Linked DNA regions of Homo sapiens: region 1 is linked to region 2. The links come from fine-mapping of genetic effects on gene expression. A gene starts in region 2. The other region holds a variant in brackets. All regions are shown on one strand. Distances are from middle to middle.

Region 1 (5,386 bases), 51 kb after region 2:
CATTCAAAGCCATCCTGGGCCACATGCGGCCCGCGGGCGGCAGGTTGGGCAAGCTTGAGTTCGAATCTTAATATTAAAACTAATAGGAATGTTTACAGCATATTACTTCTAAGTATTCTTGCCAAGATATTCAATCCTAATTTGAAGCAGAGTACTCCCATGACAATAAATTCTTTCCTACCCTGCCTTATTTTACGTCCCTCCTTCAAACCCCCTCGAGATCCACTCCTACACACCTTCCCCTGAATCATGCCAGTATATATTATCCAGCTCATCCAAGTCTTTCCATGAGAGTCTGTTTCCTCCCAGGACAGAAACTGAATTTCCCTGCTGGGACTATGTATGATCAGACTTTATCTTAATTATTGGTCTGAAGGTAATGAGAGGTCAGAGAAGCAGATGATTCTGAGGAGGACATGCATTAACCTGCAAAGCCTCCATTCCAGCTGAGTGGTTTTGCAAGGGGCAGCTGTTCTCTAGCGGGAGAGAGCTACTTCTGGTGGCCTGAAATGTTCTGGGAAACCTGGAGGTTCAAATTTTTGAAGTAAATTACTTTCAACAAATATCCCTATTCCAGGTCCAGGGACTCCTTCCCTTTCATGGCTCTAAGTTTAGCATAAGTGACCTCTCAAACCTGCACGTTCCTTTGTTGCCCTGCCACCCTTAGGATTGAAGCATGGGTTTTATTTTCACACAGTTTGCCTTCTGTCTACAGCAGACATAGTTCTCTTTAAACATTGCCATGATGCCTGCCTGGCTTTCTGGAATGCCCCGAAATAGTTGGCTGGTCTGAGCCTAATTCTTTTTCTTCAAAGATTCTAAGGCAATTATCAAAAAGCAGCCAACTTCACAGCACATGTCAGTACATGATAATATTTTGCCCCATACTAGTCAAGTGCAGAGCTACTTTATAACCTACCTCTTCCCTTTTTACCTGTACCTCATCTCAATCCAGTATAAGGGAGAGTCTTAGTAACTATAATAGTACAGAGACAAGGTACTGCCTTCTGTTCACCTTCTGCTATGTAACTACAGCCTTTCCAGCAATCGAGACCTACTTAGCAGGTATTTTGTACCTGAGTACAAACCATGGGTTATAACTGAACACAATTTGCTGCTCATATTGGTCCAGGTTTGGCTATTAAAAGCTCATTCAGTTGGCTCCTGTGCCCCTTTGACTTATCCATATAAGTGATTTTGCTTAGTTACTTCCTTACTTTCTGGCATTACAAGATTACCCAGTCTCAGCTTCTTAGTAACTATAATAGTACAGACAGCCAAAGGTTGTTACCATTAACTTATCACACAGTCCTCATTGCCCTCTGACCAGTGAGTGGACTGTCCAGTTCCAGAGTCCCATTCAGAGCATCTGCTCTGTAGAGCCACTCTTGGTTCCAACAAGAAGTACAGCCTGAAATTAGGACTTGGGTACAGTAGTTTGAGAAGTGATCCCAGGAGTAGGAAGAAAAGCACAGGAAAGAATGGTAAATATAATGGTATGTAATAGAAGTCAATGCTTTAGGCACCAGAGACTGAATTTTACTATAATCTCAAAAAGAGTGTACAGAAAGCAGCTAACATTGTCTGTCTGAAGGAGAGAACTTTAGGGCATTTATCCACCAGCTCAGGTCCCTCATTGAATGAGGGAGCATAAATTCCCCCACACTTCTGGATTGCACTTGCATGAGAGTCACACAGGTTGCCTTAGTGCCCAGAGTGAAAAGAAGAAAGAAGCACGGAACATGCCTCTAGAAGGATGGTAAGTCTGAACTCACTTGGAACTGTCCACTGCAGCTATGGTGCTGCAAAAATGGACCATGGGGAAATGACACAGGCACCAACAGTGTCTGCCACACTAGCTGTATAACCCTGGGCAACAAACAACTTACCTGAGCCTGTATCCTTATCTATAAAATGAGGTACATGTCACCTGTCTAACACAGTCATGTGAGGACTCAATTTGTCAGCGAATTAAAAGAACCAGGTGTCCTGCCCATCATCAAGTCTGGCTGAGGTGTCACACATGAAGGTAGACACCATATACCCTTATCATTTCATATCTTGGTGTTTTGTATGTTTAGTGCTCATTTTAGGTCAATGGGGCATTTCAAGTTAAGTGGAGTAGAAGTAAGTAAAGGAAAAGTTTGGGGAAGGGTAAGTGAAATAATAGTTCAGGGTATTTTTTTCCCAGAGACATTCAGTTGGTCCAGCTCTATTTGTTGAAACACTATTATTTTTCACATTGAATTACCTGGACCCGTCTGTTAATTAGTTGGTCCTAGAAGTGAGATCCTACATATGGAGTCTCTGCTCTATTCCATTCATCTGCATATCTCTCATGAATACTGCACACTTTATTTATACTGGTTAATATTGTAGTTTTATAATAAATATTGGAATCGAGTCGGGTTAGGTCCTCCAATCTTATCTTGTTTTTTTAATACACTTTAAAAACAGTTTTAGATTAACAGAAAAATTGAGAAGACAGCACAAAATTACCACATACCCTGTACCCAGATTTTCCTATTTTAACTTCTTACATTAGCATTGTACATCTGTTACAATTAACAATCCAGTAGTGATACAATATTATTAACTAAAGTCTCAAACTTTATTCAGATTCCCTTAGTCTTTAGCTAATGTCCTTTTTCTGTTCCAAAATCCCAAAAAGAAAACCATGGTACTTTTAGTTGTCATGTCTCCTTTTGCTCTGCTTGGCTGTGACTCTTTTTCAGACTTTCCTCGTATTTGGATGACCTTGACAGTTCTGAAAATTGCTGAGTATGTATTTTGTACCAGGGTACAAACCATGGGTTATAATCCAACACAACTTGCTGCTCAAGTTGGTCCAGCTTTGGCTGTTGAAAGCTCATTCAGTAGGCTCCTGTGCCCCTTTGACATATCCCTGTAAGTGATTTTGCTTTGTTTTTTCCTTACTTTCTGGCACTACAAGATGACCCAGTCTCATCCTATGTATTTCTTACCCCAGTTCTGGAATCAGCAACTTATCCAAGAGTTTCTGTTGCTTTTATTGGAGAATGATACAGAAAACAAAATCTGGGCACTAGGCATGCTCATTGCTACTTTGTCTTTTTAAATATTGTCTTGACCATTTAAGGTTCTTTGTCTTCCCATGTGAATTTTAGAATCAGTCTGTAAACCCCTTCAAATGAGGCTGCTAGGCTTTTGATTGGAATTAAATTTATAGATCAATTTGGAGAGAATTTTCATTCTAATATTGTTTGCTGATCCATGACCCCAAGAAACCAAAGGGCAAGATATCTACTTATGCCTTCTTTGTGCAGATGCGCAGAGAACCTAAGAAGAAAAACCCAGTGGTCCCTGTCAATTTTGCAGAATTTTCCAAGAAGTGCTCTGAGAGGTGGAAGACCATGTCTGGGAAAGAGAAGTCTAAATTTGATGAAATGGCAAAGGCGGATAAATTATGCTATGATC[A/G]GGAAATGAAGGATTACATACCAGCTAAGGGAGGCAAGAAGAAGGATCTTAATGCCCACAAAAGACCACCATCTGGATTCCTCCTGTTCTGTTCAGAATTCTGCCCAAGATCAAATTCACAAAGCCTGACATCTCTATTGAAGATGTGGCAAAAAAGCTGGATGAGATGTGGAATAACTTAAATGACAGTGAAAAGGAGCCTTACCTTACTGCATTAGTCCAGTCTCATGCTGCTATGAAGAAAAACCTGAGATGGGGTAATTTATAAAGGAAGGAGGTTTAATTGACTCACAGTTCCGCATTGCTGGGGAGGCCTCAGGAAACTTACAATCATGGCAGAAGGCAAGGAAAAACAAGCACCTTCTTCACAGGGTGGCAAGATGGAGTGAGTGCCAAAAGGGGAAATGCCAGACACCTGTAAAACCATCAGATCTCATGAGAACTCACTATCACAAGAACAGCAACCGCCCCCATGATCCAATTACCTCCACCTGGTCCCACCCTTGACACGTGGGGATTATCAGGATTACAATTCCAGGTGAGATTGAGTTGGGGTCACAGAGCCAAACCATATCAATCACCAAGGCAGCAAAGCTGAAAGAGAAGTATGAGAAGGATGTTGCTGACTACAAGTCTAGAAAGCTTGATGGTGCAAAAGGTCCTGCTAAAGTTGCCCAAAAACAAGTGGAAGAGGAAGATGAAGAAGACGAGGAGGAAGTAAAGGAGGAGGATGAATTAAAAAAACTGTTCATCTATTTTAAAAATGCTTTTCTATAATGACTTTGTGTCCTACACCTCTGATAAGTTCAATTAATTTTAGCATTTTTTAATATATTCCTTAGGATTTTCTACTTAATGATCAGGTTGTCTGCAAATAAAAACAACTTTACTTCTTCCCTAATCTTATGACTTTTATTTCATTTCATTGCTTTATTGCACTAAGGCTTTCAGTACAATGTTACATATAAATGCAGAGAGCAGGCATTCTTTGCCTTGTTCTGATTTTTCAGAGGGGAAGTATTATCTTTCACCATTGAATATAATTTTGGCTGTAGGTTTTTCCTGGATGCTATTTATTACGTTGAGGAAGCTTCCACTCCTAGTTTGCTAAGTTTTTACTATGAATGTGTTTTGAATTTTGTCAAATGCTTTCTCTGCATTTACTGAGATCATCAGAAGGGTTTTCTCCTTTTTTGTCTAAACTGGTGAATTTCATTGACAAATTTTTCAGATGTTATGCCAACAGCGCATTCTTTGCATAAATCTCATTTGGCTTTGATGTATTACTCTTTGTGTAAGTTGCAGAATTTAATTTGCTAATATTTCATTAAGTACTTTTTTAAATTATGGATTTTCAGTTTATGGTCACGGGGAATATAGTCTGTAGTTTCCTTTTCATGTGATGCTTTTGTCTGGTTTTAGTATCAGGGTAATGCAAGCCTTATAATATTAGTTGGGTAATGTTCCCTACTGCTCTATTTTCCGAAAAAGTTTGTGTACTCTCAATATTAGTTCTTCCTAAATGTTTGCTGGAATTCATCAGTGAAGACATTTGGACCTGGAGTTTTCTTTCTGGGAAGGTTTTTTAGTTACATATACAATTTTTTAATTTTTATTTTTAATTGTGGTACAAATACATTAAGATAAAATTTACCATCCTAACCATTTTTATGTGTACAATTCAGTAGTGCTAAGAAAATTAACATTGTTGTGCAACAGAGCCCTAGAACTTTTTCCTCTTGCAACACTGAAACTCTATACCCACTGAACATCATCTCCCCATTTCTCCTTTCCCATCCCTGGCAACCACCATCCTACTTTCTGTTTCTATGAGTTTGACTACTTTCAATACCTCATCTAAGCGGAACCATACAGTATTTTTCTTTTTGTGATGGCTTATTTCACTTAGCTTCACGCTGTCCAGGTTCAC
Region 2 (5,386 bases):
TAATCTGTATTGCAGTCCAAGGGAGATTGTCAAGACCATCAGAGCTCTGGCTCCAGGATTCCACTCAGGTCCCCCAGATTTTCCCAGCTCCAGCCTTTTCTGCCTACCACTCACATGATGATACCAATCAGTTGTTGCAACTCTGCTCCCTCCTAAATTCCCATCCTCTTTTTTTAAATCTTGTCCTCCCCTACACTAGCAAAATCTTGGGTTTTCCTCTAGCAGAAATGAGATTTGAGAGGTAAATTGTTTTTAGGAAAAGATCCAGACTAATAATTGGATGACTGCCCATTTGTTCTAGGCACCAAATATGCAATTCTGACTGAGATATTTATCATTACTGCTTTCTTGTCTTTAATTTCAGCCAGGATCTACAAATAAACATAATCAGAAGTCTTGAAGGTTTGATTTTTTTTACACTTAAATATGTTTCCAACAGTAATCAAACTTGGCACACATCCAAACAATCCTCCCATTCTCTGGTCTCCCTAAGTATCCCTTCTGAGGGTGTATGAGCAAGGACAAACTACTCTCAAGTATAATTTCAGACTCTTAAAACATGGGTTTCACCTTATAGTGACTGACAGAATGAGGGCTCTGTGGTTGGGGAACTCCAGTCAACAATGTGGGGAAACCTCAGTAGGGCCAATAAGTTTCTCCAGAGGACATTCCCACACCGTTCTGCCTTAGGCTGTTACACCCAGCTGTAGTGTTCTAGGAGCTAGACAGAGAAGGAGGCTGGGGGTCCAACCACTTCTCATAAAGACTGACTTAACCTTCAGCCTGTGCCTCTCCTTGCCCCGTGTCCTTGGGCAGTCCTTGATGAATGCCACTTATAAAGTCAGGCAGCTGGTGTTCCAATCCTGGCTTTGCTACTTACTAGCTATATGGCAAATTACCTCTCTGAGCCTGTTCCCTCATTTTTAAAGTAGGGATTATAGCACTTATCTCTCAGCACTTTGCAAGTATGCATTTACCTGTAGAAAGAATGCAACAAATATTAGCTATTATTATTACTAATATCAAAACTGCAAAGGAAATTAAACCATATGTTCAATGTTTGGGTTGTCCTTTTAACCTCTTCAGCTGAATGTTGATATGAAAGCGCTTAATAGCATTCAAACACATAATAATAAGGTAGTTGGTAATTAGGATTTACTTCAGCAAAATTTAATTAAAGAACCTGTAGGGAAAAGAAAACAGACAGAGCCAATTGTACAGCTTCCCAGCCTCTGCTTTGACCTAAGAGTCTCACTGGGCTTGCCTGCCTTTTTCTAAAGGATGGGCGAATATTCACACAGTGCCGGGCTCCAGGCAGTTACCAAATGTCTCATCACATTTTCAAAGGCTCACTCCTCTCTCTTGCGTAACCGGTGAGGTCAAAATGGGCACCTTCCTGAAAGCCAAGAGTGTCATTTCTGAACAGCGTCCAAGAAAGAAAACTGCATTCCATAGAAATCCAAGTCAAGCAATAACAAAAGGTGGCACTTGGTGCTTAAGCCACACTAAATACCTTGGTGGGCCAACTTCTTAATATAGTCACATTAACACCTTTGATTTCTCCATGACCTAAAGATTCCAAAGTTTGCAACAAAGTGCTGAGCAGGGGGGTCGGGGGTGGGGTGTAGACGGGGGAGAACGAACCAATGTAAATTTACCACTACATGAAGTTTAAAGTAGCTATAGATTGTTGTATTATTATCAAATCCAATCAGTGGAAGAAAGGCAAACAAGTGACTTGGCACTTCTGCCTCAGTCAAGGTAAGGCTCTCTCCCCTAGAGCTAGCAAGCAGGTAAACGAGCTTTGTACAAACACACACAGACCAACACATCCGGGGATGGCTGTGTGTTGCTAGAGCAGAGGCTGATTAAACACTCAGTGTGTTGGCTCTCTGTGCCACTCCTGGAAAATAATGAATTGGGTAAGGAACAGTTAATAAGAAAATGTGCCTTGCTAACTGTGCACATTACAACAAAGAGCTGGCAGCTCCTGAAGGAAAAGGGCTTGTGCCGCTGCCGTTCAAACTTGTCAGTCAACTCATGCCAGCAGCCTCAGCGTCTGCCTCCCCAGCACACCCTCATTACATGTGTCTGTCTGGCCTGATCTGTGCATCTGCTCGGAGACGCTCCTGACAAGTCGGGAATTTCTCTATTTCTCCACTGGTGCAAAGAGCGGATTTCTCCCTGCTTCTCTTCTGTCACCCCCGCTCCTCTCCCCCAGGAGGCTCCTTGATTTATGGTAGCTTTGGACTTGCTTCCCCGTCTGACTGTCCTTGACTTCTAGAATGGAAGAAGCTGAGCTGGTGAAGGGAAGACTCCAGGCCATCACAGTAAGTCTGCATACAGTTATAACTCATTAACGTTGTTACTTAGAGGAAGGCAGACCGTGGCCGGCTGCCCCTGTCGCTGAGCCCTCGCAAGTGGAAAAACAGAACTGTCAGCCTTCATGGACGAGTCTCTGTTTCTCTCTTAACCCTCATGACCCTCTGTAACTCTGGGGCTTCAGAACCTGAGTGCAGGGCAAACGTTCTTGATTTTCAAAAAGGCTGTGCCTGCATTTTAAACAACAATCAAAAGCTGTTAAGGCAGTCTGATTAACTATCTTTCACACTCTGTGGTGTACCTTAGAAATGCAGTTTTTCCTTAAATGTCCATTTGACTGGCATTAGATAAAAAAACAGATCCCCAACTTGGAAACTTTTTTAAGCTATGAATGCCTCAAAAAGTTAGAATTTTTTTTAAAGAGAGAAAAAGAAATTTTAAAAATGACCTGAAACTTTATATTTGTAGTGTGGTAGCATGTTCCAGAAAGCCTAAAATAATTAAAATGAATGTTAATATACGTAATTTAAGCATTAAACAAGAGAAAACTAGGTAAAAGCACGTATCAGATTAATTCTAAGATATCAGTTTCCAGCAGAGTCACAAACTGAATAAGATCCTGATAAAGGAATGCAGTGCATGCAGTGGATTTGGAAAATATTTTGTTAATACCGAGAAGGAAAATCGTACATTTTTTATGTTTGTTCCGGGAAAAAGTCAAAGCCAGAAATAAATTACTTTTCTTAAATGATCCAGCTTTCTTTTTAATTTTATAAAACCCTGTATTTGGCAGTAACTTGGAAATCTGTGTCACAATCATTTATCCCTAGCTATAACTTTTGATGTAATTGTTTTAAGAAGAAAAAGATCTTTGGAAAGCAATATCCCAATTTCTCAGCATTTTCTGCCACTGACATTAGGTATAGGAAAAAAATGAGTACTTTTTAAAAACTGATGCTAGATCAGGGATTTTTTGTTGTTGTTCTTAAAATTTTCATTGCATAACTAATTATGCTAATCCTAATTTAGATTTTTTACTAATTGATACAATATCTTAGTTTCACCCAGGAAACATTCAGTAAATTGAAATGTCTTCTTAGCCAATAGTAAGACACCAGAAGTCTATTGATAAGGTTGGCACTTTTCCATAAAACAATGCTTTGTTAAATGTCTAGCTTCTAATTATTACATTTTCCTCTCTTCAGAAAACCTTGGTCGGGATTATTGTTTGTTTTGTTTTGTCCTTTTTTGTCATTAAACTCAGCCACCATCTCAGCTGTCCTGCTTTAAGGGACAGGAACTCGGCTCTGCTCTGTTGTTTTTGGCATGGGCCTTTTACATTACAGCTGTTGTCTAAAGGTTACTTTATTAGACTGCGTGAGTTGTGTGGTCACAGGCTCCACTATTTCTAATGCTTATATCTCCTAATTAGCTAATTGAAATAGACAAGTAGACCCTTGTTCTGAATTTGCCTCTTTCAGTTGGGGGACACCCTCGCTCAAGCCCTTTTTCCCTCCAGTGTACCTTATAACTCTTACCAAAGCCACACATGTTCCAAAGATATGGCTGTATACAGTTATTTCTAAGGCTAGGAATCTTAGTCACTGAAGGTTCCAAACGCAAATAGAGACAGAAAATCCTCATAATGTCTTAAAAGCCATCAAGAGAGTAAGTAGCTTCCTGAATATGCAGATGTATGCTTTTTTGATGATTAAAAAAATTTTTGGATTATTCCATCAGCCTAAATATATCCCATTAGAAAGGATTAAACAAATCTCCCAAGTAAGATCACAAAGTAATTCTAGCTTGGAAGTAATATACTTGTATAAAGGTTGTAGGGAAAAAACTGGAAAAAGTTTATGGGAACAAATTTCTCATAAACCAGCCTACACCTCACCAGGCTAAATCCAGTCACATTTGTCACCACCTAGAGGAAAAGTGGAGCAGTGGTGTGTCCATGGAAACAACACATCCACTCTCCTCCCTCTTGGACGCCCTGGGACACGCCAGCTTTCCTCGCCCTCGCCCTTGCCTTGCCCAGGAAGCCACCTCAGCTAGTCTCTTTCCCCCTAGGAAAATAAAATCACAGAGTATGCAGAGAGTTTGCAAGAATTATTTCATTTTTGGAAATGCTTAAGCCTCAGAATCTCCAACCTAGACTAAAACTCAGAGAGTATCTTCTCATTTTAGCTTTTTCCTAGTACTTACCTACACTGAAATAATTTTTTGTATACTTCAAGAATGAAATCAGAAGGCAATTCCCCAATGCACCCAGACATAGCAACACATAGACCTCACTTTGGAGGAAAAAAAAAAAACTTTTACACTCTAGGATCTATTTGCTTTTTACATTAAAATTCGTTTCTCCAATTGCTGGCTATAAAATAAAATAATCTTCACAGTTGTATTTATTCTACCTGGTTTCAAGTGCCTAAAAAGTCATTATTTTTCACTGCAAAGAACTGAAAAAATAAACGTATATACCTAGAATTTGACAGAACAAAGATCCAAGTGCCAGTCTTTTTCTTTTTCTCAAAAAAAAAAAAAAAAAGGTTAAACACATTAAGTAGTTGAAATGTGACACTTAGGCTCTCAAATTGAAAACTAAATTACTATCGTGATGCCATTCATTTCTCATATCAGATCAGTAAATTGAATTTTAGATTAGTCAGATGTCTTCTCAAAGATTTAAAGAGAATAAGAGCAAAATTATGAAAGTATGCAGAAACAATTGTTCAAGGGTAGATACTTCAGTTTGGGTATACCAAATATAGATTCTATTTTACACAATTACTTTCATGTTCTTCCTTAATACTTTATCCATGCACCAACTCTTCCCTTACTAAATTAATGGTCAAAGTACCCCTTTGCCTAGAAGTTCAGTTTTCAACTATAATTTAAACACAGGGCTGCTTAAAATTAATTAACTATTATGTTTGATCTTTAAAATGTCTCTTGAGGCCCTTTTCAAGTCAGTACACACTTGAACAAATAGCTGATCTTTCTACAAAAGGTGAGCTAATTGGAATTCAATAGTATTTTGAAATAGACTAGTAATTTGAAA

The links. PIP is the estimated chance that this variant, and not a neighbour inherited with it, causes the effect. A credible set is the group of variants that fine-mapping cannot tell apart.
Region 1: its variant is the best candidate, but not a certain one, in a credible set for the expression of PALMD in subcutaneous fat (TwinsUK, PIP 0.54).

Annotation. Positions count from the first base shown.
Region 1 is chr1:99,694,988-99,700,373 of GRCh38, forward strand. It overlaps the pseudogene HMGB3P10. Among named protein-coding and RNA genes, the nearest start is that of PALMD, 52 kb to the left of the region's middle. The variant A/G (reference allele first, on the strand shown) is at 3,457.
Region 2 is chr1:99,644,033-99,649,418 of GRCh38, forward strand. It overlaps PALMD (palmdelphin), which reads left to right and starts at 2,081. Exons shown (of 8, transcript NM_017734.5): 1 at 2,081-2,330. The coding sequence starts at 2,286.